Homo sapiens: one gene and its partners. The protein of the gene in region 7 interacts with the protein of the main gene of each other region in a biochemical or structural test. Each region holds a gene or a part of one and is shown on either strand. Other genes may lie near its edges. The genes, in order: MSN, BTRC, NUDT1, BRAP, KPNA6, SIRT6 and SKP2.

Region 1 (4,318 bases), on a different chromosome or scaffold from region 7:
TACTGAAAGCTTCTTATATTAATAATTTTGGCAAAATGTCATTTTGTAATATAGTATATGCTTTCCAGGTGTGGGGGTGGTAAAGTAATGAGGCCAAAATCATCCTGCCCCAAGACTAATATCTTCTAATGGTGCATTAGCAAGGAAGGCAGAAATCAATATTTAGATATCAGTAGAGTACATAATACTGTAGAAAGAAGAAGAGCACACATGAGACAGAGAAGGAGGTGGATGCTCCTGGGTTGAGAGCAAGGGGTGGGGGTGTGGAAGGGACTAGGCCAGAATCCCCAGCAGCTCTCTGGTTTACAGCTCCAAGGGACAGAACAGCTGGTGTCAAGACCTGGGTTAGAGGTTTGTCAAACAGAGGCAGGGCCCAGTCACCTCTTTGGAGGGGAGTGATGAGAAGGGGATTTTGGTCACCTGAGAGGGTTGAGTAAACTTGGATCAGGGCACAGGCTTCTCTCACCATACTCAGCTTTTTGCACTCACTCCCTAGTTGAGCCTACTGGCATCAAGCTCTAGATGCCAAGGCTGGGATGGCTGTGGAGCAGGAGCTATGGCCCAAGTAGCTCTGAGAGGGGAAGAGACCTAAAACCCCTAGCAGGGAAAATACTGACGCTAGGTGTGAACATATCCTCTCTTTTCACAAGAGTCCTGATGGGGCTGGCTGAGCTTTTGGGTACTCATCCCTACTGTTATAGCTGGAGAGGATTTGGGTATTGAAGCAGGGAGGGGCAGATCCCACGAAGTGACTGCAGATCTGGAATAATAAGTAAGGGGTAGATCTGCCCATAGAGCTCACTTTAGACCGGCCTATACTCCTACAAGGAATTGGGGTAGGATCTTCTACTCAGCCTTGCCACAATAGAATGGCCAATGCCCTTCTAGTATGTTTGGTGAAGGTCTTGAAGGCACCATTTCCCCCATCCACCCTGGGGAGAAATTGAGTCCCTAAAGTCAACGACAAGGCTTATTGAGGCTGAGTTTGCAACAGATCCGATCTGGGAGGTAGAAACAAAAATGACTGAACATCTTTTTATCCCCCAATCGTTACAAAGCCTAAATAACTCTAAACGGGATGGGAGGGCAAATTTTAGGTCAGTTGACATCCTGGAGAAGATATCCTAGGTCCTGTCTCATTCCCTAGACCGCATAACACTCCAACCGTGTAAATCTCAGGACCCTGAAGAAGACAGTGGTAGGGGAGAGGAGGGGAGCTAGCTTCCAACCTACTCCACACTTGACTCCCATAGGACAACAGTAAGTGTAAGGGCATTTGCAAAATCAAGTGGAAAGTACCTCTAGGCTGGAGAAGTAGGATATTCTAGCCATACAGATTCAATGGAACAGAGAAGAGAAAGGAGGTTCCATTGGCACCATAGTGAGCCATTCATTTGCCCAGGGAAGTGGGTGGGGGCTAAGGGGCTAGGTTTGGTCCCATGGCTACATTAAATGCTTGGCATGACTCCAGGGCTGCTCTAGTTAGTGGCTCCAGCACAGTATGAGTTAGGTGAGTTAGGTGTAGGAGTGTGGGGACAAGGAAAAAGGGAGGAGGGGTCCCTAGAGGCTGGGTGCCCATTACATAGACTCAAATTCGTCAATGCGCTGCTTGGTGTTGCCCTGCCGGATCTGGCGCAGGGTCTTGTATTTGTCTCGGCCCAGTCGCATGTTCTCAGCATGGATCATGTCATTGGCAGTCTTCTTGGACTCATCTCTGGCATTGGCCAGCTCCGAAGTGAGGGCCTGTGAGGATGTATGGGAACACAGAGGTCAATGGCTTTCTCTCATTTTACCTCCTGTTATTTGACCAGACTTCCCTTCTCTTCTGTTTCCTTCTTTCTTCCTCACCCTTTCTCTCTATATATAAATATTGAGAGTCATTTCCAACTCTGTTAGAACTGCAGTGGGGCAAGAATATTAAAAAAAAATAAATAAACTTAGGGGACCAGTTGATAATGGGTATCCTTTAAGAGTAGAACAACATACAAAAGATTCAGGTGGGAATTTTGTCAGCTAGATATTTTCTTAATGTAAGAGGTGAATGGAGTGAGTGGGAGGTGGGGCAGAGAGAAAATCTCAAAAAGGGAAGAGATAGCCCAAGGTCTGATTAATAAGTGAGAGGTGCCTATCCTTAAAGCTGTCACTTAAGAACGGCTTGGGCTCCCATACAACACTGGGACAGGATCTTATACCTATCCCCCATGATGGTCTAGGGAATGCCATGGGCTACTAAATCAATGCATATAGTTTCCTTGCCCCTTGGCCCTACTTGTATACCTTCAGGTGCTTCTGCACACGCTCATTCTTCTCTGCCTCAGTGGTACGTTCCTCCTCACTGCGGTCCTTGGCCATAGCATCAGCCCGTAGGTCAGCACTAGCCTCTGCCCCATTCTCATCCTGCTCATCCTGCTCATTCTCAGCAGGCTCTGCCACATGAGGTGTACTCATGGCAGTCTTCAGCTCAGCACGGGTCTTCTCCAAGTCTTCCTGTACCATCTGGGCCTGTCCAGTGACAGAAGGAGAGAAAGACTGTCAGTGAGACCAGTTAAACTGTGGCATCCTGTATATGCCTAGAACGGTCTGGCAAGAGGCAGGCACCAGGTAGGACAAGGCACTTCATCTGCCTGATCCTTAGTTTCTTCATCCATAAAACAAGAGCAATTGTACCAACTTCCTAGAGGTATTAGAGAACTCCAGTAAGTATTTGACGAAACCATGAGTGCCTTCTCCCATGCTGCCTGCTGTGGGAAGTATGAAAGAGGGAGGGAGCCAAAACATAAGGAATCTAAGGAGCTGTTACCTATGCATATGGCACCCATTCCTTCAATGCTTTGCTTTAGGCCCTGTGTCTTACCTTCTGCTGCCACTCCACAGCCTCACTCTCCTTCTTCTGTCGGGCCATCTCCAGCTGGGAGATTCGAGCTGTCAGCTCTGCCATTTCCAAGGCCTACGGATAAATTGGAAGCCTGTGAGAGCTGGGCCTTCTGGTCCTCAGGACCCAGGTGTCTTCAACCCAAGTCCCCTGGGGGACTAGTAAGGGACCTACTGCTCCACTTGCTTGCTGCCTCAGAGACTCTTTTACCAGACTACTTCATTCCAGTCCCATCTTCCCTGACCACCACTTCCTTTTAAGTCAGAGCTCCCCCACCTAGACTGTAGGCCTCTTGAAGACAAACAATATGCCATCTCTGTCCCTTCCTCATTATCTCTCCCCCTGCCCCTCTTGGCAAGTATGCAGCTGGGGGCCTCAGTAAAGCTTTGGCCATCATTGGGTCACTTCCTGAAGTGGCAGATCCTTTCCTGATATCCTAGAATGCTCAGGATTCGACTAAGAGTCTTCCCAGGACAAGTACAGGAAAGACACTCAAGTGTCACAAAGCTATCTGAACAAGGAAAAAAGCTTATGCACACCTTGGGTAAATCTCCCATGACAGCTTCCTCATGAGAGACAGGTCTTGGTTCCCTCTATTCCCACCTCCAACAGTACAAAGGAAGAGTATATGTCAAGGAGTTTGGACCACAGGTTCTTAACTTCTGAGTCACAGAACCCTTGGAAACTGTGATGAAAGTATGGATGCCAAATGCCCCAAAAATGCATAGACACATAGTTTTGCATGTGATTTCAGGGAGCAAAGCTTTCAAACAGAGGCAGAAATGGGTGGGTTCTAATCCTTATTTAGCTACAATTGTGTGATCTTTGGTGAATCTCTTCCCTGAGCTCTAATTTCCTTATCTGGGATATTATCTCATATGAGGTTAATCCCATAGGGTTACTGGGAAGAAGAAATAAGTAAGGAAAAGGGAAATATTCCCAACACAGCAACATACAGCAGGAGCTCAAATATGAGTCCCTTTTGTTCTTTTCTCCTTCCCTTTCCTTTGCCAGGTCAATCAGCTCAGATACCCAAGAGTTAAGAAAGTGAACAGAAACTAAGGGTTAGGGAAGACTGCAAAAATTTCTGGGCCACACTAGTGACTTCTCAGCTTGCTTCTGAACTAGTTATTTGCTGGAGGCCCATGGAGTGGTAGCCTGCTCTAAAAAGCCAGCATGTAAGCAAAAGTAGCTATAAGTAAGTAGGCAGACAAGGAAGAAAGTTCAGTTCCCATAATCCCAGCCCACCCTACAGCTTTACCAGCTGTTCCTGAGTCTTTTTCTGGTCCCGGGAGGCCTGCAGCAAGGCCTCCTTGGCCTCTTCAGCTTCTTGACGCTCCTTGGCCAGCTTTTCAGCCTCGCTCTGGGCACGCTTCCGTTCCTGCTCAAGTTCCAGAGCCCTACGGGTCTGTTCTTCCAGTTCTGAGCAGAAAAGGAGGGGAGAAG
Region 2 (4,318 bases), on a different chromosome or scaffold from region 7:
CACACACATATAGCTTCAGTACTAATGCAAACTTTTATCCTTTTCATTAAGGAACAGGGTAGTCTATAATTATGTGATGGCCAAAAGAGTAACAGCCCATTCAGTGCATTTCAAGAAGAGAATTTAACCCTAGGACTACCCGTTTGTATAGTGGGGAAGCTGATGTCTGTCCTTTAAGGAAATGATTTTGGCTTTGGGACTGGAAACAATCTAAAATCTTCACTTACTTTCTAGAAATAATGCTTAGAGTTTATGCTTTAGACTGCGCTATGAATGTGGTCACTCTTGCTCCCTCTGCTACCTTTCTACAACTGAATAGACCTCACCTTGATTGTGTTGTCTCGAAGGCCGCTTACTATTTTCTGATCATCATACTGTAAACAGTAAACTCCTTTGCTTGTTTCACTTCGGCAGTGAATTCTCTGTAAACTATGTCTTCCACATCTCCAATTAGATTCTATTGTCTGAGAAGAAGGAATGGGAAAGAGGCAGTGTTAGGAAACACCTAGAATCAAACTCTTTTTAGGCTTTAATGACAATCAATGGCTCAATGCTTTACTCTATGGGATATACACAACTTAGGGAAAACTAAAAAATGTCTTTAAAAGGCTACTATCTATATTTATAAAATATTCTTCCTTTTGCAAGGTAATTAAAGGTTGTTTCCTAGAACTTCCCTGCCTATAATTTGTTCAATTAAATAATAAATCTGGTGGAAAGAGACTACTCATCAAGAGAAGAAAAGCTACGAACTACGTGAGGTTATACACTCAGTGCTCTTACATATGTGATGGCCATTGCTACTGATTGCTACTGATGAACTTCTAAGGAGGTTCAATTCAGAAGATATTTAAATATGAGCTTATGAGTACAAGTTTACCAGTCACACTGCTATGTATGAAGGGATCAATCTCTTTAACTCTCTCATCTACTTATTAGTAAACCATTTTTTAAAGCTTTAAAATTTTGCCTAGCAATTTATTTTACCTACCCTACTCGCCTGTAAAGAGATTGATTTTCTTTTCCTTTTCTTTTTTTTTGATGGAGTCTCGCTCTGTCGTTCAGGAGGGAGTGCAGTGGTGCGATCTTGGCTCACTGCAACATGTGCCTCCCAGGTTCAAGTGATTCTCCTATCTCAGCCTCCTGAGTAGCTGGAATTACAGGTGTGTGCCACCATGCCTGGCTAATTTTTGTATTTTTAGTAGAGACAGGGGTCTCACCATGTTAGCCAGGCTGGTCTCAAACTCCTGACCTCAGCCTCCAAAAATGCTGGGATTACAGGTGTGAGCCACCATGGCCAGCTAAGAGATTGATTCCCAACTCATGTCAATAAACCTTAATGGGCTTGCTGTAACCATACTGTGACTGAAGAATGCTGATAATTCTGTGCCCTTGGGCAATACCCCAAAATACATAGATTCTTACCTCAATGTCTTGTATAATTTTAGGATAAAGTGCTCTATAAAAAGAGTTGGGAGGAGCATTCCCGTCAGGAGGTTTGTTTTTGAATAAATACTGTCCCCTAAAAAATAACAAATATTTCCCAGTGAAAATCATGACATTATATATTTAAATACATATATATTTTGAGACAGAGTCTCGCTCTGTTGCCCAGGCTGGAGTGCAGCAGTGTGATGTTGGCTCACTGCAACCTCCGCTTCCTGGGTTCAAGTGATTCTCCTGCCTCAGCCTCCTGAGTAGCTGTGATTACAGTCATCTGCCACCATGCTGGCTAATTTTTGTATTTTAGTAGAGATGGGGTTTCACCATGTTGGTCAGGCTGGTCTTGAACTCCTGGCCTCAAATGACCCGCCTGCTTGGCCTCCCAAAGTGCTGGGATTACAGGCGTGAGCCATCACACCCGGCCGACATTATATATTTATAAGGAACTTCATATATTTTGAAAGTGTTTTCACGGTTACCATTCCATATACTCTCCATAGCTGTCTGCGGAGGAGCAAAGGTAAGCCTGATTTCAGGAGTCCCATGTCAAAGAGTAACCTTCTGGGCTCTAAAGAATCTGACCAACACTGATTTGCTTTTGGGTAAAACATGATTATTTCCAGTGTAGAACATCGGAGTACCAAGCCTTTAGGAATATTATAATATCAGTAAACAAATGGAATATGTACAATCAGAATTCATCTATTGCTCTATTAAGACTACTGCTTAGATTCACTGGCCTCATCTTTTGGAAATTTTGTTAGTAATGGTAACTATTACCTTTGAACTAGCACATGCCCTATAGGTTTTTTTTTTTTTCCCTTTTACTGTGTCAGTGGTCCCCAGCATTGTAGACAGCAGCAATGCCTCTGGCATGGAGATCACTTTTGCTAGGTCTTTATTTGTACAGGGTAAGGTGTGGTGGCTGCTCAGTCACCCAGGCTGCTGCTAATCAGTGCAACTATGCTTTGAAAGGAGCAATTCAGTTCATTTCATCAGAAAACAAAAGGATCACAGGTGTGTCCAGCAGCAGCTAGGGAAGAAGAAAAAAAAGAAATGCCTAAGAGCACTGCTATCAAGTCTAAGGCATGAAACTGACTTTCACAGGTGTGTTCCTGGCTGTGTACATACACATGTACTTAACTGCCTTCCCTGATTCCAGTGAGCAACATTTGTTAGTATCTCCTTCCTTATGACAGCACATCTCTGGAATACTCGTATCCCAAGCTAGATCTTTGCTACAAAAAAAAAATCAGTAAATGGCAATCACTTCCTGCTGGGTAAAAAATTTAATTCCTCATCCGGAAGTTAAGAACCCACCAAACACGGTGTGGAAGCTAGTAAACCCCACTATGGGTGTACTAACTGCTGTTCTCACTGGCACCGTGCCTTGCAAAGTGGAGAGAGGCAGAAATGCCTCTGAGTGTAATCCTGGCACCAGAGAAATCATGTTTTCTCTGGGCCAGTCATCCACTCCTCCCTCTATAGCTCCATTACAATATAATTAATTGTTTGGTGTCTCCAGGAGTGTTTCTCCCCTGCCCTCTCCCTGTTATATACCCTGAAAATTAGTTGAGAAAATTTCCTATCAGGAAGGTAGATGGCTCTAACTTCTGTGTTAATACAGAAAAGAAAATCTGAAATAGAGAAGTGAAAATAATACTTATAAAAAGGGGGATTAATGAAACATGATACACCAGCATAAACAAAAGGGGAAACAAGATGCGTTATGAAAGAATTCCAGATTAATGGTACATTTCTCTGTACAATATTATTCTACAAACACTTTGCAGGCAAATAATAGATTTTGAATGTGAAGATTTTAAGTCTGACTCCTGAGCCCACCCACATTCTTAACTACTTTATTGTTTCTCAATGCCCACCATTCCTGAGATTCCTGTCTTCTTTTAATCTCTAGCACTCCAAGACTTTCTTCCTATGCAATGATACTATCTACATTCTAAGGAAAGAGAACTCACATAAGCTTCTGATCTTGTTTTCCACCTCACTGCATTTACCATGTCTTGGTAAAGTATCTGAATTTCTTCAAATCAAAGTGTTACAGAAAGAGGTGGCTAGGTACTGAAAACTGGCTTCTGTCTTTATGTTTTAAGTCAAAACCTTTTATGATGGAAGATCTTTGAAAACAGGGACTACTTCTATGTGAAATGCCTAGTACCTACAAGAATGTGAGTACATGATAAACGTTAAATATTAAATTCAGAATGTTATCATAAAATGTGATCTGCTGATTAAGAAAATTGACTTTTCCCAAGTGGTCTTTTATTATACTTTTAAGAGTTACCATTACTGAGCAGACAGCATATTCAGTATTATTCAAGAGAGAAAACTACAGAGTTCATGTCCCAGGGGAAGACTGTCAAATCCATCTAGATATAAAATACAACATCAAATACCAAGTTAAAACTTAGAGATAAAAGCTTTATTAGAAAACTGTATTTACTTACTATTTTTGGTTAGTAGAAATGGAAGAACCTTTCAAAGCTAGCATATGGGGAAAAGTATAACACAGAAAGACTTTATTGACGTATTAGGCTTGGTAAGACAACTTGAAAGAAGAAAATGAGAAACTGATGGAGTAAATTTTTTTTTAAAAAAGGGAAGAAAACTGACACAGGAATAAAGTCAACATGTAAAAACAGAAGCAGCAACAAGAAAGTCGAGGGAATAATGGAGGAAGTTGACACGGGATGTATAAGTATTTGGAATTTCATGGGTTTATCATGGGATTAAGAGGATAAACATGCCCAAAGACAAGGGGATATAGTCAGAACTCTGAAGGATACTCAAAAGAGCGGGAATGGGTTTCTGTGGATAAAGAGATAGGGGAAAAAAGTGGTAATTAGTGCTGGAT
Region 3 (4,028 bases), on a different chromosome or scaffold from region 7:
CACATCCCCAGCTTGTGGCACTGAGCATGTGTGTCTCTGCCCTGGGCCAGCTGCCCACCTCGGGGACAGAGTCTCCATCCTCTCCCACCTCTGTGCAGCAGTGCGGGCTGAAGCCCAGCACATCTGGTAGCTTCCTGTGGACGGGACCTGGCAGGCTGTGCTGGTGTCTGGAGAAGAACGTTTGAAAGGTTAGAGACCGGCCGGGTGCAGTGGCTCACGCCTGGAATCCCAGCACTTTGGGAGGCTGAGGCAGGTGGATCACCTGAGGTCAGGAGTTCAAGACCAGCCTGGTCAACATGGTGAAACCCCATCTCTACTAAACAGACAAATATTAGTTGGGTGTGGCAATGTGCGCCTGTAATCCCACCTCTTCGGGAGGCTGAGATGGGAGGATCGCTTGAACCTGGGAGGCGGAGGTTGACGTGAGCCGAGATCGTGCCATTGCACTCCAGCCTGGGCAACAGAGAGAGACTCCATCTCCAAAAAAAAAAAAAAAAAACCACCGCTAGATAGCTTTATTTTCCCTTCCATCCAGTTAATTCCAGATGAAACCCGGCTCTGCGCCACTCAATGCCCCCAGGTGAAGATGGTTTGCGGCTGTTCAGCAGCCACGTCTCCTGCCCAGGGGCTGCCCTGGGCTCCCGCTAGACCGTGTCCACCTCGCGGAGTGTGTAGTCCAGGATGGTGTCCTGACCCTGGAACTTGAAGTACCCGTGGAATTTCTTCTTCTGAAGCAGGAGTGGAAACCAGTAGCTGTCGTCGGGCCACATGTCCTTGAAGGGGATCTGATCCAGCTGGAACCAGCATGGGCGCATTTCTGTACCAATGGGGGAAGAGGAGGCACTGAGGTGCAACCCAAACTTCATGCTTAAAAAACATGTTTTTTTTGGCCGGGCGCGGTGGCTCACGCCTGTAATCCCAGCACTTTGGGAGGCCGAGGCGGGAGGATCACGAGGTCAGGAGATCGAGACCATCCTGGCTAACACGGTGAAACCCCGTCTCTACTAAAAATACAAAAAAATTAGCCGGGCGTGGTGGCGGGCGCCTGTAGTCCCAGCTACTTGGGAGGCTGAGGCAGGAGAATGGTGTGAACCTGGGAGGTGGAGCTTGCAGTGAGCCGAGATTGCGCCATTGCCCTCCAGCCTGGGCGACAGAGCGAGACTTCGTCTCAAAACAACAACAGCAACAACAACAAAACCATGTTTTTTTGTAGAGATGGGGTCTCACTGTGTTGCCCAGACTGGTCTTGAACTCCTGGGCTCAACGATCCTCCTGCCTCGGCCTCCCACAGTCCACAGTGCTGGGATTACAGGGGTGAGCCACTGCGTCTGGCCAGCCCAAACGTACACTGACTCTCTGAGGAGTTCACTGAGTGATCGTGAGGAACCTGACGATCGTTTATATTTCATCCTCATTACCGTGTTTCTCATTTTAGGGTGGGCGCAGAGCAGGGGCAGGTACGCTACTGGAGCCTCGGTGCAGAGACCACGGCTCATGGGCCCCACGCTGGCACTGTGGGGTGGAGGGGGACGCAGGCTGCCCGGTCCCTGGCACTCAGAGATGGTTTGGGCGGATGGCCTTTCTCCCAGCCAGGAGATGGGACCCGCATAGTGGGGAGGGGGAGCAGGCCCTGTGAGACTCACCGTCGCTCTCCACGGGGGTCCCCTGGATGCTGTCTGTGCAGAAGACATGCACGTCCATGAGCTCAGGCTCGCCCACGAACTCAAACACGATCTGGCCCACCTTGTGCAGGGCGTCCACTGTCAGACCGCTCTCCTCCTGCAGCTCCCTGCGGGCAGAGGTGGGCAGGGGAGGGAGGCCGTCAGGGCATGGTGCCATGCCCACACGATGGCAGGGAGGAGGAGCTGGGCATCTACACACAGCCCAGGGAGCCACCAGGGTGGATGGGAGACCCAGGAGGATGTCCCCTAGAATGCATTATCTGGTCCCGACCTGGCTGAGCTTCAGAATCAACTTGAACTTTGAAGACACTGATTTTGGTTGAGAGGCTCTGGGGAGGGGCCCGGAGATGGTGTGGAGCCTCTGGTGGGAGGAACGCAGTTCTAGCCCAGTGCCCTCTGTGTACCAGTGACAGCCCAGGCCCAGTGGAGTCCAGCCACTTGTCCACCGTCTCGAGACCCGCACGTGGCAGGGTTGGGACTGACCCCACTTCCTTCATTCCCGGTTACTTGCTTTTCCGCGGCTGAGCATCAGAGCCCATGCAGCGGTAGTTACGACCGCCGGGGCCCTGGGACGCTTGCTCTGGGAACCTGGGCCCTATACTCTGGGCCTGTCTGCCCAAAGAAATGTCTTTCCAGCCTGGTGCCTCTTCTCTGAGAACACAGGATGAAACCACAGGCTTCTATGATCTGTTTCCTGAAGGAGGAGCTCTGGTTTTAACTCTGGTCCCCAGGCTGACCACACGGGACACGTGGCCTGGGCCTCTTCCTGCGCCTTCTCGGGACATGCTCCCCACAGCTGTGCCTGGAGGAGGTGTAAGGGGCTGACTTCACCACGGGATGCCCAAGTGCTGCTGCGCCTGGGAACAAGCCCTTCCCTGCTTCGTGGCACACAGAGCCAGGTTTCCCCGAAGTAGTCTAACGCTGTTGCTAATTTAAAAATTACATATTTGTTATAGACAACCAGGAAACAAAACGCCATAAACTCATCACCCAGGAATGCTACCATTTCAGTGTTTTTCCTTTGGCTCTTTCTCCTCTGTTTTTCCCTTAAGAAATGCAAACATTAACCCTTAATAGCTTAAAGTTAAAAAATAAAAATGCAAACAGGTTGGGTGCAGGGTGGCTCATGCCTGTAATCCCAGCATTTTTGGAGGCCAAGGTGGGAGGATTGATTGCTTGAGCTCCGGAGTTTGAGACCAGCTTGGGCAATATGGCAAAACCCTGTTTCTACAAAAAGGACAGAAATTAGCTGGGCATGGTGGCACTCGCCTGTAGTCCCAGCTCCTCAGGAGACTGAGATGGGAGGAATGCTTGAGCCCAGGAGTTGGAGGCTGCAGTGAGCTGGGATTACTCCACTGCACTCCAGCCTGGGCAACCGAGCTAGACCCTGTCTTAAAAAAAAAAAAAAAAAAAAAAGCAAACATCATACACACTTTATACCTCGGGCTTTCCACGCAAGAAAGGAGGAGTGCATGACATTCCACACCTCAAGGAACCCAGCCGCCTTCTCAACTCCTGTTTGGTATGGAAGAATAAAACGTTCCAACTTCGGGTTATGGTGGAAACCCGTGTTGGGCACAGCGGTGCTGCTGACCTCCCGTTCTGAGCGTTTGCTTGCTGTGCTCAGTCGGGTTCTTGCTCAGTCCCTCAGCAGACACTTCTGAACACCCACTCTGTGCTGGGACCCTGGGGATGCACGGGCTGCAGCCGCTGGGCACCTCAGTCTCCTCCTCTTACCATGCCCGGCTAATTTTTCTGTGTGTGTGTTTTTCTGTAGAGACAGGGTCTTGCTATGTTGCCCAGGCTGGTCCTGAACTCCTGGGCTCAAGCGATCCTTCTGCTTTGGCCTCCCAAAGTGCTGGGATTTCAGGTGTGAGCCACCATGCCTGGTCTAAATGGTCTGATTTAAGCGATGCCTCCTCAGCTTAAACTGCAGGGACTGGAGAGGAAACGGACCTGGAATCAGCATTTATTCATACAGATGGCTAATTAAAGTTGGGCTTGAGCTACAAAGTGAACGTGTGCTTCTACTTGGGTATAAATGGCTCCCCAGTTAGATGCAATAGAAGTGCTCAGTGGGGCCTCACCCGCCTCTTGGCGGCCGGCTGTTGCTCGTCTTAAAAAGCGTCACCTCCCAGTGGGATATTGTGACTGATTTTAGTTAATCTTCCCTAGCACATGGCAGCGTAGGAAGCATCAAGAATCCGCCGGGAGACAGAGCTGAAGCTCCATTTCCCAGGCAGGGAGCGCCAGGCAGGCGAAGATGACGCTGTTCAGTTCTGCCCAAGTGTCTGCTCTGTCCATGGCACTCGGTTCCCCAGGCGGAACACGGGGAACAGGGTGAGA
Region 4 (3,973 bases), on a different chromosome or scaffold from region 7:
GACGTCACGCAGCTGCTCCTGGATCTCGGTGATCTGCAGATCTTTTTGGTCACAGGTCTCCTTCAGCACCCTCTCCTCCTCTTTTAGCTTGTTCTGCAGGAGGACTTGGTTGGCTCGCAAACACTTGTTCATTTCCTGCTCCTCTTTGAGCTCGTTGGTGAGTTTGGCCACTTTTGTGTTTAGCTGAGTGCACCTTTTGAAAAACAAAGGAAGACAAAAGCACATTTTTCATTTGCTGACACAGTCCCCTTTCTGCTCTGGGATTGAACAGAGAAACCATGACCTCAGAATCCCTTTAGGACAGACCCCTTTCTCCCATCGTGAGGGAGAATGGTTTTCTGCCATCGCAATCAGCTATGCAAAGCAAGAATTTTGCTCTACTTAACACAAGTGTATTTTTTTTTGAGACGGAGTTTCGCTCTTGTTGCCCAGGCTGGAATGCAATGGCACGATCTCAGCTCACTGCAACCTCCACCTCCTGGGTTCAAGCGATTCTCCTGCCTCAGCCTCCCAAGTAGCTGGGATTACAGGCACCTGCCACTATGCCTGGCTAATTTTTGTATTTTGAGTAGATATTGGGGTTCGGCATGTTGGCCAGGCTGGTCTTGAACTCCCAACCTCAGGTGATCCACCTGTCTCGGCCTTCCAAAGTACTGGGATTACAGGCATGAGGCACTGCGCCAGTCCACAAGTGTATTATTTATTTATTTATTTTTTGAGATGGAGTCTCACTCTGTTGCCCAGGCTGGAATGCAGTGGCGTGATCTTGGCTCACTGCAACCTCTGCCGCTTGGGTTCAAGCGATTCTCCTGCCTCAGCCTCCTAAGTAGCTGGGATTACAGGTGCCTGCCACTGTGCCCAGCTAATTTTTGCATTTTTAGTAGCGACGGGGTTTCACCATCTTGGCCAGGCTGGTCTGGAACTCCTGACCTTGTGATCCACCCACCTTGGCCTCCCAAAGTGCTGGGATTACAGGTGTGAGCCACCGCGTCCAGCCCACAAATGTACTTTTAAGACACTTTTTTTTAAGCATCAGAAAGTTTTCAGTAGCAGAAACTATTCTGTGACTGACGGTAAAAATTCTACTGCTTCTTTGTTTTGCAGTCAGTGGTTAAATAGGTGCCTTCGAGATGATAGCTGTGATAAGGAAGTTATGAGGAAAAGTGGCATTCTTGGAGAGTCAAGTACTCTGACTTCATTGCATTTGCTGAAGGGGAAAAAAAGGGCACTTATTCTAACCAAAGGGCTTTAGACTTGGGAGTGCCCTATTCTTGATGTCCAGTCTTACTCATAAGTAAAGAATTGCAAATGAAACCACCATTTGAGGCCAGGTGCATTGGCTCATGCTTGGAATCCCAGCACTCTGGGAGGCTGAGGCGAGAGGATCGCTTCAGTAAATGAAACAGGAAATGAGTTCGAGACCAGCCTGGGCAACAAAGTAAGACCCTGTCTCTACACAAAATCAAAAAACTTAGCCAGGTGCAGTGGCGTGCACCTGTGGTCCCAGATTTACAGGAGGCTGAAGCTGGAGGATTGCTTGATCCCAGCAGGTCAAGGCTGCAGTGAGCTGTGTTCATGCTACTGCACTCCAGCCTGAGTGACAGAACGAGATCTTGTCTCAAACAAACAACCCATACCATCTGAGACCCAGCAGAGTGGCTCATGTCTGTAATCCCAGCACTATGGGAGGCAAAAGTGAGAGGGTCACTTTGAAATCAGCCCGGTCAACATAGCGAGACACCGTCTATACAAAAGAAAAATTAAAAAACTAGCTGGGTGTGGTGATGTGCACTTGTAGACCCAGCTACTTGGGAGGCTGAGGCAGAGGACTGCTTGAGCCCAGGAATTTGAGCCTGCAGTGGGCTGTGATTGCATCACTGCACTCCAGCCTGTCTGACAGAGTAAGACCCTGTCTCAAAAAAACAACAACAAAAACCAAAAACACTCACACACAAAAACCACGAACAAAAAAACCCCACTATTTGAGATACTATTTTTATGCATCAGAACACCCAAGAGCTGAGACATGAGAAAAGAGGCACTTACACACTAGCACTGGAGCATGAACTGGTATAAACTCTTTCGAAGACAACTTGGCAATATCTATAAAAACAAAAAATTTGGGCCAGGCACGGTGGCTCACGCCTGTTATCCCAGCACTTTGGGAGGCCGAGGAGGGTGGATCACGAGATCAGGAGTTCAACATCAGCCTGGCCAACATGGTGAAGCTCCGTTTCTACTAAAAATACAAAAATTAGCCGGGTGTGGTAGCGTGTGCCTGTAATCCCAGCTACTCGGGAGGGTGAGGCAGGAGAACTGCTTGAACCCTAGAGGCGGAGGCTGCAGTGAGTCGAGATCGTGCCACTGCACTCCAGCCTGTGTGACAGAGCAAGATTCCGTCTCAAAAATAAATAAATAAAAACAAAAAATTTGCATGCCCTTTGACACAGCTATTTTACTTCTAGGAATTTATACCATAGAATAGATATACTCAGGATTAGGTAAAAAGAGACATGGAGGAAGATGCTCATTACAGTATTGCTTATAGTAGTGTGAGATTTGACACAACTTGACACAATCAATAGGAACCTGGTCAAAATCATTATGCAGGCCAGGTGCAGGGCTCATGCCTATAATCCTAGCATTTTTGGAGGCCAAGACAGGATCAAGGAGGAGGATCACTTGAGGCTAAGAGTTCAAAACCAGCCTGGGCAATATGGCAAGACCCCGTCTCTACAAAAAAATTTTCAATTGGGCAGACATGGTAGCACACACCTGTAGTCCTAGCTACTCAGGAAGCTCAGACTAGGAGGACCACTTGAGCCCAGTAGCTGGAGGTTGCAGTGAACTATGATTACGCCACTGTACTCTGGCCTAGGCAACACAGCAAGACCTTATTTCAACAACAACCACCACAACAGAAATCATTATAGTACATCCATACAATTAAACAGCATGCAGATGTTACAAAGATCAGGATAGATTTAGATGTGCTAGTATGAAAAAAAATCCAAAAACATATTTTATCAAAAAGAATACCTAGATTCTATTTTTGCAGAGAAAAGATTATGCATGTGAGATATTTATGTGGGCAGAGCTAAACATCTAGAAGAAGAAATATTCACTGGTACTGGTTAATAATGGTTAACACTAGATAGCAGGATCTAGAGGGTGAAAAAGAACTTCCAGTTTTTGCAGGGTGTGGTGGCCCATGCCTGTAATGGTAAAACAGTCTCTGCAAAAAATTAGCCAGAGGCCAAGCACGGTGGCTCACGCCTGTAAAACCAGCACTTTAGCAGGCGGATCACCTGAGGTCGGGAGTTTGAGACCAGACTGACCAACATGGAGAAACCCTGTTTCTACTAAAAATACAAAATTAGCCACGCATGGTGGTGCATGCCTGTAATTCCAGCTACTTGGGAGGCTGAGGCAGGAGAATTGCTTGAACCCCGGAGGCAGATGTTGCAGTGAGCCGAGATCACACCATTGCAGCCTGGGCAACAAGAGCGAAACTCCGTCTCAAAAAAAAAAAGAAAAAAAGAAAAAAAAATTAGCCAGGGGTGGTGGTGCACAGCTGTAGTCCAGTTACTTGGGAGGCTGAGGTGGGAGGATCACCTGAGCCTAGGGAGGTGGAAGATGTAGTGAGCTGGCCGAACACAGTGGCTCAAGGCTGTAATCCCAGCACTTTGGGAGGCTGAGGAGGGCGGATCATGAGGTCAAGAGATCGAGACCATCCTGGCCAACATGGTGAAACCCCGTCTCTACTAAAAATCCAAAAATTAGCTGGGTGTGGTGGTGTGCTCCTGTAGTCCTAGCTACTCGGGAGGCTGAGGCAGGAGAATCACTTGAATCCGGGAGGCGGAGGTTGCAGTGAACTGAGATCGCTCCACTGTACTCCAGCCTATTGCGCCACTGCACTCCAGCCTGGCGACAGAGCAAGACTCTCTCTAAAAATAAAGATGGGCTGGGCACG
Region 5 (4,318 bases), on a different chromosome or scaffold from region 7:
ACGTTTTAAGCTTCTGAGATTTTCAGAATAGTAATTGAGCATTGACTTCAACTTAAAGGCCCCAGCTGCATTAGCCCATAACAAGAGAGTCAGCCTGTCATTTGAAGCTTTGAAGCCAGGCATTGACTTCTCTCTAGCTATGAAAGTCCTAGATGACATCTTCCTCCAATGGAAAGCTGTTTCTTCTACATTGAAAATCTGTTGGCTAGTGTAGCCACTTTCATTAATGATCTTAGCTTGATCTTCTGGATAACTTGCTGTAGCTTCTGCATCAGCACATGCTGCTTCACCTTGCACTTTTTTGAGACAGTGTCTCACTCTGTCACCCAGACTGGAGTGCAGTGGCACGATCTCGCCTCACTGCAGCCTCTGTCTCCCGGGTTCAAGTAATTATGGTGCCTCAGTCTCCTAAGTAGCTGGGATTATAGGTGTGTGCCACCACGCCCAGAACATTTATGTATTTTTATAGAGACAGTGTTTCGCCGTGTTGGCCAGGCTGGTCTCGAACTCCTGACCTCAAGTGATCCGCCCACCTCAGCCTCCCAAAGTGCTGGGATTATAGGCATGAGCCACCACACCCGGCTTCACTTTTTTTTTTGAGACGGAGTTTCTCTCTGTTGCCCAGGCTGGAATGCAGTGGCGCGACCTCAGCTCACTACAAGCTCGGCCTCCCGGGTTCACGCCATTCTCCTGCCTCAGCCTCCCGAGTAGCTGGGACCACAGGCGCCCGCTACCACGCCCGGCTAATTTTTTTTTGTATTTTTAGTAGAGATGGGATTTCACCATGTTAGCCAGGATGGTCTCGATCTCCTGACCTCGTGATCCGCCCATCTCAACCTTCCAAAGTGCTGGGATTACAAGGCGTGAGCCACTGTGCCCAACTTTTTTTTTTAAGATAGGGTTTTTGTCTGTCACCCAGGCTGGGGTGCAGTGGCAAGATAGCACACTGCAACCTCTAATTCCTGGGCTCAAGGGATCCCCCCACGTCAGCCTTCTAAGTAGCTGGGGACTACAGGTGTGTGCCACCACACTCAGCCAATTTTAAATTTTTGTGAGACAGTGTGTCACCATGTTGCCCAGGCTGGTCTTCAAGTCCTGTCCTCAAGTGATCCTTATTCCTCAGCCTCCAAAGCCACTGGGATTACAAGCATGAGTCACTGAGTTTGGCCTCCACATTGATGGCTTCTTTCCTTAAACCCTTTCTTTTTGAGACGGAGTCTCACTGTCGCCCAGGCTGGAGTGCAGTGCCATGATCTCAGCTCACTGCAACCTCTTCCTCCCAGATTCAAGCGATTCTCCTGCCTCAGCCTCCCAGGTAGCCAGGATAACAGGTGCCCGCCACCACATCTGGCTAATTTTTGTATTTTTAGTAGAGATGGGGTTTCACCATGTTGGCCAAGTTGGTCTCGAACTCCTGACCTCAGGTGATCCACCTGCCTCAGCCTCCCAAAGTCTTGGGATTACAGGCATAAGCCACTGCGCTCGGCTCCTTAAACCTTATGAACCAGTCTCGTTAGAGCCTGGCTCTGGATTAGGCTTTGGTTTAAGGCAGTATTGTGGCTGATTTGATCTTCTGTCAAAACCACTAAAAGTTTATCCATATTGGCAATAAGGCTGTTTTTTCTTTTCTTTTCTTTTTTTTTTTTTTGAGACAGAGGCTGGAGTGCAGTGGCCCTATCTTGGCTCACTGCAAGCTCCGCCTCCCGGGTTCATGCCATTCTCCTGCCTCAGCCTCCTGAGTAGCGCCCGGCCGGTTGTTTTTTTTAAACATTTGTGTGTTCACTGGACTAGTACTTTTCATTTCCTTCAAGATCTTTTCCTGGCCAGGTGCAGTGGCTCATGCCTGTAATCCTAGCACTTTGGGAGGCCCAGGCAGGCGGATCACCTGAGGTCAGGAGTTCAAGATCAGCCTGACTAACATGGAGAAACCCTGTCTCTACTAAAAATACAAAATTAGCCGGGTGTGGTGGCACATGCCTGCAATTCTAGCTATTTGGGAGGCTGAGGCAGAAGAATCGCTTGAACCCAGGAGGTGGAGGTTTCGGTGAGCTGAGATCGCACCATTACACTCCAGACTTGGAAACTCCTTCACAACAAAAAAAAAGAACTTTTCCTTTGCATTCACAGCTTTGCTAACTGGCGCAAGAGGCTTAGCTTTCACCATATCTTGGCTTTTTGACATGCCTTCCTCACTAAGCTTAATCATTTCTAGCTTTTGACTTAATGTGGAGACATGCAACTGCCCCTTTCACTTGAACAAATAGAGGCCATTGTAGGGTTATTAATTAGCCTCATTTCAATATTGTTGTATCTCAGGGAATAGGGTGGGAGAGAGACTGTGGAATGGCTTGTTGGTGGAGCAGTCAGATCATACACAGTATTTATCAGTTAAGTTCTCCATCTTATATGACCATGGCTCATGGCACCCCAAAACAGTTGCAATACTAGCATCAAATATCACTGATCACAGATCACCATAACAGATAAAACAAAAAACAAAAGTTTGAAATATTACGAGAATTACCAAAATGTGGCACAAAGTGAACACATGCTGCTGGAAAAATGGCACCAGTAGACTTGCTTAACATAGGATTGCCACAAACCTTCAATTTGTTTTTTTTTGTTTTTTTTTTTTGAGACGGAGTTTCACTCTGTCACCCAGGCTGGAGTGCAGTGGCACGATCTTGGCTCACTGCAACCTCCACCCTCCGGGTTCAAATGATTCTCCTTCGTCAGCCTCCTGAGTAGCTGGGACTACAGGCGCCTGCCACCACGCCCGGCTAACTTTTTGTATTTTTAGTAGAGATGGGGTTTTACCATCTTGGCCAGGCTGGTCTTGAACTCCTGACCTTGTGATCCACCCGCCTCGGCCTCCCAAAGTGCTGGGATTACAGGCGTGAGCCACTGCGCCCGGCCCAATTTGTTTTTTTTTTTTTAAAAAAAACACACATTGGCTGGGTATGCTGGCTGACGCCTATAATCCCAGCACTTTGGGAGGCTAAGGCAGGTGAAACTCTTGAGCTCAGCAGTTTGAGACCAGCCTGGGCAACATAGTGAGACCCTGTCTCAAGACAAAAACAATAACAACAATAAAAAAACACACAGTATCGGTGAATCACAGTAAAATGAGATATGCCTGTACTTTATATATTCATTTAATTCTCAGATTCTCATGTTTTAGTTGAGAAAACCAAAGGATGGAGAGGTTTCAGTAACTTGGGCAAATTCATAGCTAATACATGGAAGAGACGCTTACTCAGTATGATTCTAATCAAAATATGGGCTGTTTGTACATAAGCATTCCTGAAGTAGCTAAAGCAATCTCTTCCCCACCCATCTTTTCCTATAGAAATCTCACCTGTTTTTCTTTTCTTTTTTTTAATTTGATATGGAGTTTCGCTCTTGTTGCCCAGGCTGGAGTGCAGTGGCACAATCTCCGCTCACCGCAACCTCTGCCTCCCAGTTCAAACTATTCTCCTGCCTCAGCCTCCTGAGTAACTGGGATTACAGGCATGCACCACCATGCCCAGCTAATTGTTTGTATTTTTAGTAGAGACGGGGTTTCACCATGTTGGTCAGGCTGGTCTCGAACTCCCAACCTCAGGTGATCCTCCCGCCTCAGCCTCCCAAAGTGCTGAGATTATAGACGTGAGCCACCGTGCCCAGCCATCTCACCTGTTTTTCAAGATATACTTTAAATACTGCCTTCTTCATGAACCTTTCTGAAGTACTTTATGCCTTCCAGTTTGGAAATGAACTCTCCTAAATTCTATAGCACTTTGTTCTTACTTTTTTTTTTTTTAAATGGAGTCTCGCTTTTTCTCCCAGGCTGGGGTGCAGTGGTGTGCGCTTTTCACATCCTTTTTTCTATTACAGTTGTTTTATTCCATGTTATTAGTTTTTTGACCAGTTACTTACTCTACATAGCCTCATTTTCTTATCTTTAAAATAGGTATAGGTTAGGTGCGGTAGCTCACACTTGTATTCCTAGCACTTTGGGAGGCTCAGGAAGGAGGATTGGTTGAGGCAAGGAGTTCCAGACCAGTCTGGGCAACATGGCAAAACCCCTGTCTCTACAAAAAAAAAATTAGTTGGGCGTGGTGGGATGTGCCTGTACTCCCAGCTACATGGGAAGCTGAGACAGAAGGATCGTTTGAACCTAGGAGTTTGAGGTTGCAGTGAGTTATATGATCTCACCATTGTACTCTAGCCTAGGTGACAGAGCAAGACCTTGTCTTTAAAAAATAAAAATGAAATAAAATAGAGATAATAGGATTGTTACAGGAATTAAATGAGGTAATGCCTGTAAAGCATTTTA
Region 6 (3,796 bases), on a different chromosome or scaffold from region 7:
AGGGATTTGGGGGGCATGTCTTCCTCCTGGAGGGATTTGGGGGGGCCGTGCCTCCCTCCTGTGGGGGGTACATCCGTGTCCTGGCACTGCTGTAGCAACCTGCCACAGATGAGCAGCGTAGAACAATAGAAATTTGTGATCTCACAGTTCTGGGGACCAGAAGTCCAAAATCCAGGTGTCTGCAGGGCCATGCCCCTCTGCAACCTGTAGGGGAGGATTTTTCCTGCCTTTTCCTGGCTGCTGGTGGCAGCCAGCCACCCTTGGTGGTCCTGGACCTACAGCCACAGGGGCCTTCTTATCTCTGTGTTTCTCCTTTTTTTTGAGACAGTCCCGCTCTGTCATCCAGGCTGGAGTACAGTGGGGCAATCTCGGCTCACTGCAACCTCCGCCTCCCGGGTTCAGGCAATTATTCTGCCTCAGCCATCCAAGTAGCTGCAACTGCAGGCGCCCGCCACCACACCTGGCTAATATTTGTATTTTTAGTAGAGACGGGGTTTCACCATATTGGCCAGGCTGGTGTCGAACTCCTGACCTTGTGATCTGCCCGCCTCAGCCTCCCAAAGTGCTGGGATGACAGGCGTGAGCCACCACGCCCGGCCCAGTATAACGATTAAAGTCAGGAAAAGTAAAGTGGACATCGCCTTCTCTAATCCCGAATCCAGACTCGGCCTGTCGCCCCCATGCTCCAATTGTTCCTGTTTCTCCTGGTCCGGGATCCCATGCTGGGTCTTGTCTCTCGAGCCCCTTCGTCTGTCTGGGACAGTTTCCTGCTTTGTTTTCTGTGCTCCGGGCACCGAGCAGCATCCCAGCCCGTTATTCATGGAAGGCTACTCGTTCCGTGTCGCTGGGTGCTAGTTCTGGTCACCTGTCCACCCCCCACCTCCCTGGGAGAACGTCACCCTAGAAACAGTGCGAGAGTCACCCATGGGAGCTCACCTGGTCCCATCCTCCCCCTTCCTCCCTGACACAGGCAGTACGTCCGAGACACAGTCGTGGGCACCATGGGCCTGAAGGCCACGGGCCGGCTCTGCACCGTGGCTAAGGCAAGGGGGCTGCGAGCCTGCAGGTGAGCCACCCCCACCCATGCCCTGGGCTCCAGGGGAGGCTGCGAGGCCCCTGAGGACTCTCCTCAGCTTCCTCATTGCAGGGGAGAGCTGAGGGACACCATCCTAGACTGGGAGGACTCCCTGCCCGACCGGGACCTGGCACTCGCCGATGAGGCCAGCAGGTCTGACCCCCCACCCCCAGGGAGCCCATGGTGGGGCGGGGCGGGACGACAGCAGAAACACAGCCAGCTCCAGCATGGGACAGTGGCTGAGGCTCACAGGCAGTGAGGGGAGGCTTCCTGGAGCAGGTGGGCCAGGCCAGGGGCTGCACACACGCACTCACACACACTCGTCACCTCATGGCTCTGGGTGGGTGCTACACAAGGAAACCAAGGCTTCCGCCAGGTGTCTCCTCTATCCAGTGCTGCCCAGCCGGGAGGTGACCGAGCCAGGGTCCCACCCTAGGTGTCCAAGCTCTTACCACACTGTGATACTCCCCGGAAGTGTCTAAGGGCCCGCCCAGATCAATGACCCCGCCAACGGACCGCAGAGGAGGGCAGGGCGGGATCCCAAAGGCTGACTCGGGAGTGGGGCTGGCCTTGACCGCCCCGGTGAGCACAGATGGCCTAGGTGTGAACCGGCCCCCAGGGCTGGCTCGGGATGTTGGCAGGAGCAGGGCATCAGGCTCAGCCCACGCTCCCCGGCCCCAGGAACGCCGACCTGTCCATCACGCTGGGTACATCGCTGCAGATCCGGCCCAGCGGGAACCTGCCGCTGGCTACCAAGCGCCGGGGAGGCCGCCTGGTCATCGTCAACCTGCAGCCCACCAAGCACGTAGGTGTCTGAGCCTACCCCTGCCCAGGGCCACCATGCACCCTCTGTCCCCCACGCCTGACCCGTCCCGCCCCTCGGCAGGACCGCCATGCTGACCTCCGCATCCATGGCTACGTTGACGAGGTCATGACCCGGCTCATGAAGCACCTGGGGCTGGAGATCCCCGCCTGGGACGGCCCCCGTGTGCTGGAGAGGGCGCTGCCACCCCTGCCCCGCCCGCCCACCCCCAAGCTGGAGCCCAAGGAGGAATCTCCCACCCGGATCAACGGCTCTATCCCCGCCGGCCCCAAGCAGGAGCCCTGCGCCCAGCACAACGGCTCAGAGCCCGCCAGCCCCAAACGGGAGCGGCCCACCAGCCCTGCCCCCCACAGACCCCCCAAAAGGGTGAAGGCCAAGGCGGTCCCCAGCTGACCAGGGTGCTTGGGGAGGGTGGGGCTTTTTGTAGAAACTGTGGATTCTTTTTCTCTCGTGGTCTCACTTTGTTACTTGTTTCTGTCCCCGGGAGCCTCAGGGCTCTGAGAGCTGTGCTCCAGGCCAGGGGTTACACCTGCCCTCCGTGGTCCCTCCCTGGGCTCCAGGGGCCTCTGGTGCGGTTCCGGGAAGAAGCCACACCCCAGAGGTGACAGGTGAGCCCCTGCCACACCCCAGCCTCTGACTTGCTGTGTTGTCCAGAGGTGAGGCTGGGCCCTCCCTGGTCTCCAGCTTAAACAGGAGTGAACTCCCTCTGTCCCCAGGGCCTCCCTTCTGGGCCCCCTACAGCCCACCCTACCCCTCCTCCATGGGCCCTGCAGGAGGGGAGACCCACCTTGAAGTGGGGGATCAGTAGAGGCTTGCACTGCCTTTGGGGCTGGAGGGAGACGTGGGTCCACCAGGCTTCTGGAAAAGTCCTCAATGCAATAAAAACAATTTCTTTCTTGCATCTCAGTGTGTTTACTTTATTTTATTGAGCCAGAGTCTCACTCTGTCACCAAGGCTGGAATGCAGTGGCGTGATCTCAGCTCACTGCAGCCTCTGCCTCCTAGGTTCAAGCAATTCTCCTGCCTCAGCCTCCAGAGTAGCTGGGATTATAGGTGTGTGCCACCACACCCAGCTAATTGTTTGCATTTTTTGTAGAGATGGGGGTCTCACTATGTGACTCAGGCTGGTCTCAAACTCCTGGGCTCAAGCAGTCAGGCCACCTTGGCCTCCCAAAGTGCTGGACTTAACGGGCGTGAGCCACTGTGCCCAGTGAGTGTTTAAATTCCCTATTTGTGGCAGGTCCTCGCCCCCCTGGGTCAGGAGTTCGTGGTCCCCTCCTCCCTGGACCAGCTGCTTGGGCTCCGTTGCAATCCCTGCCCCTCAAGCCTGGGGGCCGAGGAACAAGGGCTCACCTCTCCCCCCACCCCGCCTCTGGAGGGATCAGGCCAGTTTTCTGATGATGAAGCCAATAAGGCAGCTGGCATTTTCTGAGCACTCAGTTTGTAGTTATACACTTATGCACATGCTTTTTGTTGTTGTTTAACATTTACCCCCAGGCTATGAGTCCCCACCTGTGCTTTGGGCGCGATTTTGCGATGGCGCCCGGGCAGGCGCGCACAGCCCGCAGTGGGGGCGACCCCACAGACGAGCGCAGGAGCAGCCGGGTTCCACTCTCCCCAGCTGTGACCTTAGGCAGTCCCTCCACTTCCGACGCCTCGGTGTCCTCGCCCGCAAAATGAGCAGGGTGGGCCGCCCAGATCCCCGGGAAGGCAGCTGCCTTCCCCGCAACTCCGGAGGGGACACCTTGGAAGCGCCACGCCTGCCTCCCCGCACTCCGCCCGCCGCCGCTCTCCAAGGTGCTGAAGTCGTGCCCGGCGCCTCTCCCTCCGCTGCTCCAGCGCGGGCATCTGGCGGGGGTGTGGAGCCCACACCTCACTCACCCATCCCAGGCTGGCCCA
Region 7 (3,898 bases):
GTTTGAACATGGTGGTCAGGGAAGGCCATACTGAGATGACGATCACTAAGCAAAGGCTTGAACAAAGTGAGGGAGTGAGCCCTGTGAGTATCTGGTGTACGTGTTCTAGATCCAAGGAACAGCATGTGTGTTTGAGGCATAGCAAGGAGGCCAGTGTAGAGCGCAGAGGTAGGTGGGTAGAAAAATCAGAGAGCAGCCAGGTCATGCAGGCTTCCTAGGTCATGATAAAGCCTTTGGCTTTGACGCTGAATTCTATGAGGCACCACTAGAAGATTCTGAGCACAGGAATGACAGGCCCTCACGTAAGTTCAAAAAGGATCACTCTGGCTGCTGTGTTTAGAACAGAAAGGTGGATGCAGGAAGCGCAGTTTTCTTTCATAGAAGCAATCTCTAAATAACTATTCAACAAGTATGAAACTCTTACATATGAATACATAGAATAATCCCACAAGCTCAGGATAATGTAACAATTGCCAAGAAGGAAATAAATGCACAATGAAGGAATCCTAAAAAACAGTCAGATGAGTTCAATGATTGCCTTCCTAGGCTTTCCACCTCTGATGGATCTTCTACACCAATTCTGGTGATATTCTCTCCTCCTACTCCCATTTAAAGGTGCCAGTCTTTACTGAGCATGTCCTTTGTACCAGGCCCTGTATAAGTGGGTTTGAGGACACAAGGGAGAAAAACACCGAGGAGTGTGACAAACACCTGCTGCCCTGGGCAGTCTTTCTAAACCAGCATGTCTTTCCCCCAGTTAGAATCCTTCAGTGGTACACCCCAGGTATTTAGGCTAAAGTCCACAATGCTTAGTACAAAGTTAAACGCTTTCAGCCAGGTCTCAACTAGTTTTCCTAGGTTTGTTATCTAGAAATGTGTTCCAGCCATTTGGAGCTACCTGTAATTCTTAGAATGAGTCATTCTGTGCCGTATCTCAATGCTTTTGCACATCCTGTGCTTGCCTCCAACTACTATTCATTTAAAATCAAATGGAAGCCCCAGTTCCCACAGAAGGCCTCCCGTGACATCAACAAGGACAGGCCACTTATGTACCATAATTTCATTATTTACTTACTCATCTCTCTAGACCCCCAGGAGCTCTTGAGAAACAAAAACGCTTTTTTTTTTTTTTTTAACAATTTTTGTATTTTCAGGAACTAGCATAAAATTGATACATTCATCCACTCCCATATTTATAAAATATGTACTATACACTGAGGTCTATTCTAGGTTTTAAGGACACAATGATAAATAAGGCACAATCCTGACCCTTATTCTGCTCAGAGTTTGAGAGATATAGACAAACAGGAAACTTCAATAACCTATCCTGATGGGCTACAGTAGGATTCGGGGTGCTGTGCAGCTTATGGGAATGGCGCAGGGGTTAGGGAAGCCTTTCTGGAGGAAGTGGCCTCTCTTGAAGAATGAGTAGGAGATACACAGTTGTTCAATGAATGCCTGTTCCCCTAGCCTCACGCCCTTCAGGGGACAAAATTAAAGGACTGACTGAGGCCCTGAAAGCTAGGGGTAGAAAGCTGAAGGCAGATCACCCCTGCTGATCTGGGGAGGCAGCTGGAGGTTGTGAGGAGGCTCCTCGACGTGGCAGCTGTTCCATCACTGCCACAAAGTTCCTCCAAAGTCAACATGGGCAGGGGACAAAGGTTCTCAAACCAGGCTCTTGCCCTGCTCCCCAAATTGAAAACAAAGTTGAATGACAGGCTTTTCTCAAGTTTTTCTCCCATTAATCCAACTCTCTCAGACCTCTGCTGCCTCTTACATATCTAGATCAGAATCTAGTAATTGATTGGGCATAACTATATTTAGCTATAAGTATAGTCATCCACTCACGTATTTATTAACCATGTACTATATACACTGAGGTCTGTTCTAGGTTTTGGGCCACAACAATAAGTAAGGTACAATCCTGACCCTTATTCTACTCTGAGTTTGAGAGATACAGACAAACAATTAAACAGGAAATTTCAATAAACTATCCTGATGGGCTACAGCAGGATTCAGGGTGCTGTGCAGCACATGGGAATGGTGCAGAGGTTAAGGAAGCCTTCCTGGAGGAAGTGGCCTCTATGGAAGAGTAAGCTTAACTATACTTCAATAACATACTTAGCTATTTTGAATCTAATATGTTGAGATTTTACTATAATCTGTAAAAATCATACTGACACCATACGCTGGGCCTCCTCAACACATTTGAGGACTACTGGACTGAGAAAGCAGCACAGTTTCTATCAGAATCCTGGCTGTGTTGCCCCAAGTCTGTGAACTTGGGCAAGTTACTTAATCTTTCTGGCCTCAGTTTCTTTACCTGCAGGAAAGGAAATTGACAGATTTATCTTGCAAAATTGTTCAGTGAAGAGTAAATGAGGTACAAGAAAAGATTAAATAATGCAGCAGGGAGTAAAACTTTCTTTTCTATATTCCTCTCCTTTCCCAGTTAAGTCTGGGTATTTTCTTCATGCAATGACCTTTTCAGTGCTGCTCTGAATTTTCACCCATGGGCAGACACTGGACAAGGTCTGCATGGTATGACTTACCAAAACCCCGTATCTGCCCTTTATTTAAGTTTGGGTCCCCCAGAAGCAGATTCTGAAGCTCTGACTTCAAGTAGTTTATTTGGGAAGTGATGCCAGGAAGCACTAGAAAGAGTGGAGAAGACAGAGGTGGAAGGGAAGAAAGCCAACCTGGAGTAGGCTAATAGGCAGGTTATCCCTATGGGCAATTGGGGTTCAAATCTTCTGGGGACTCCAGTAAACCATCTAGAAACTACCCCAGAGCTGTCTCAACCAAGGGCACGAGTGCTGGGGTATTAATCCATCAATTGCTGTTGGTCACTATTTGGGGACTCCCCAGTATTCCTGCCCAGAGAAAGCCCTCAGGCATGGAATCTCATCTACACGTAGGCAAAAGCTTTGGCATGTAAGGGAATGGGGGGCTTCAAGGGGCTATAGATAGGGCACCAACAGAAATTATGGCTGGGGAAAGGAAATTAGAAAAGCTTGCTATGAAGTACAGGGCAGGAGAAATAAATTAACAAACTTGGTGCTTTCTATTAGGAAGACATAAGAAATCAGGACCAATTAAAAGAGCAGTAGCAGCCAGGTAATTAAAGTGCTAGAGGAAAATCTGGCATAGTGATGAATGCAGAGGTCAGTAGACCTAACCAATGAAGACTGCATGTGAGACTCCAAAGTCTGGAGGACTTTGTGTTGCAACTTCCATCTTTGCCTTCCCAACTCCTCCAGATTTCAGCTTAAATGGCACCTGCTCAAAGAAGCATTCCCACCCAGGATACCACCACAGGCCCCATGCCCAGATTTGCACATCCATTACCTAACAATGCCTGGCACATAACAGGACTCTATAAATATTTGCCAAATGTATTTATTAGCCCTCTTCATTCAAATGGTGAATGTGCTAATTCTTTATTAGTGTGAATGGCTAACCCTTATTAACCAATTAACGACTATGTGCACAGCACTGTTGGCATATGGAGGGGATGAGGCTGAAGACAAAAACCCAGAGCAGAAGGGAATGTCCTCTATCAGTATAGCTGTAGTCTCTGGGAGATGGGGGCTGGGGCTTCAAGAAAACATGCAACTATGATAAAAGAGACAAGGTCACACAATCAGTAAGTGGCAGAGGGGGAATTTAAACTCAGGTCTGATTTCAAATCATGCCCTTTCCATCCTAGTGGGTTCTAATATTCTATGCTCTCCTCTGTTGTAAGTACAAATTTTGAAAAGGTGAGAATTAAACCCGGACTTGCTATGGAAACAGAAATCAATCAGGGCTAGGGAGTGAGTGGAGGAGGAGAGAGAAAATAAAACAAAGATGCTATCAATGGGTTCACCACCAAATGGAAGGAGCAAGGTCCTAGAAA

The links.
Region 1: the proteins of SKP2 (region 7) and MSN form a complex in vitro, tested with the Homo sapiens proteins (one study listed by BioGRID).
Region 2: the proteins of SKP2 (region 7) and BTRC form a complex in vitro, tested with the Homo sapiens proteins (one study listed by BioGRID).
Region 3: of the proteins of SKP2 (region 7) and NUDT1, one has a biochemical effect on the other in vitro, tested with the Homo sapiens proteins (one study listed by BioGRID).
Region 4: the proteins of SKP2 (region 7) and BRAP form a complex in vitro, tested with the Homo sapiens proteins (one study listed by BioGRID).
Region 5: the proteins of SKP2 (region 7) and KPNA6 interact in a test that uses a peptide from one of them, tested with the Homo sapiens proteins (one study listed by BioGRID).
Region 6: the proteins of SKP2 (region 7) and SIRT6 form a complex in vitro, tested with the Homo sapiens proteins (one study listed by BioGRID).

The regions. Positions count from the first base shown.
Region 1 is NC_000023.11:65,737,154-65,741,471, reverse strand, and holds part of MSN (moesin), read right to left. Parts: intron 4,295-4,318; coding exon 4,134-4,294; intron 2,948-4,133; coding exon 2,855-2,947; intron 2,503-2,854; coding exon 2,278-2,502; intron 1,744-2,277; coding exon 1,579-1,743; 3' UTR 1-1,578. UniProt on the Homo sapiens protein: Ezrin-radixin-moesin (ERM) family protein that connects the actin cytoskeleton to the plasma membrane and thereby regulates the structure and function of specific domains of the cell cortex.
Region 2 is NC_000010.11:101,528,441-101,532,758, reverse strand, and holds part of BTRC (F-box/WD repeat-containing protein 1A), read right to left. Parts: intron 1,523-4,318; coding exon 1,426-1,522; intron 465-1,425; coding exon 327-464; intron 1-326. UniProt on the Homo sapiens protein: Substrate recognition component of a SCF (SKP1-CUL1-F-box protein) E3 ubiquitin-protein ligase complex which mediates the ubiquitination and subsequent proteasomal degradation of target proteins. Recognizes and binds to phosphorylated target proteins.
Region 3 is NC_000007.14:2,247,618-2,251,645, reverse strand, and holds the end of NUDT1 (oxidized purine nucleoside triphosphate hydrolase), read right to left. Parts: intron 2,336-4,028; exon of another isoform or gene 1,954-2,335; intron 1,790-1,953; coding exon 1,644-1,789; intron 1,005-1,643; coding exon of another isoform or gene 949-1,004; exon of another isoform or gene 911-948; intron 818-910; coding exon 645-817; 3' UTR 501-644; downstream 1-500. UniProt on the Homo sapiens protein: Oxidized purine nucleoside triphosphate hydrolase which is a prominent sanitizer of the oxidized nucleotide pool. Catalyzes the hydrolysis of 2-oxo-dATP (2-hydroxy-dATP) into 2-oxo-dAMP.
Region 4 is NC_000012.12:111,644,370-111,648,342, forward strand, and holds part of BRAP (BRCA1-associated protein), read right to left. Parts: intron 194-3,973; coding exon 1-193. UniProt on the Homo sapiens protein: Negatively regulates MAP kinase activation by limiting the formation of Raf/MEK complexes probably by inactivation of the KSR1 scaffold protein.
Region 5 is NC_000001.11:32,114,556-32,118,873, forward strand, and holds part of KPNA6 (importin subunit alpha-7), read left to right. Parts: intron 1-4,318. UniProt on the Homo sapiens protein: Functions in nuclear protein import as an adapter protein for nuclear receptor KPNB1. Binds specifically and directly to substrates containing either a simple or bipartite NLS motif.
Region 6 is NC_000019.10:4,173,112-4,176,907, reverse strand, and holds the end of SIRT6 (NAD-dependent protein deacylase sirtuin-6), read left to right. Parts: intron 1-970; coding exon 971-1,066; intron 1,067-1,147; coding exon 1,148-1,228; intron 1,229-1,756; coding exon 1,757-1,880; intron 1,881-1,961; coding exon 1,962-2,291; 3' UTR 2,292-2,799; downstream 2,800-3,796. UniProt on the Homo sapiens protein: NAD-dependent protein deacetylase, deacylase and mono-ADP-ribosyltransferase that plays an essential role in DNA damage repair, telomere maintenance, metabolic homeostasis, inflammation, tumorigenesis and aging.
Region 7 is NC_000005.10:36,158,529-36,162,426, reverse strand, and holds part of SKP2 (S-phase kinase-associated protein 2), read right to left. Parts: intron 1-3,898. UniProt on the Homo sapiens protein: Substrate recognition component of a SCF (SKP1-CUL1-F-box protein) E3 ubiquitin-protein ligase complex which mediates the ubiquitination and subsequent proteasomal degradation of target proteins involved in cell cycle progression, signal transduction and transcription.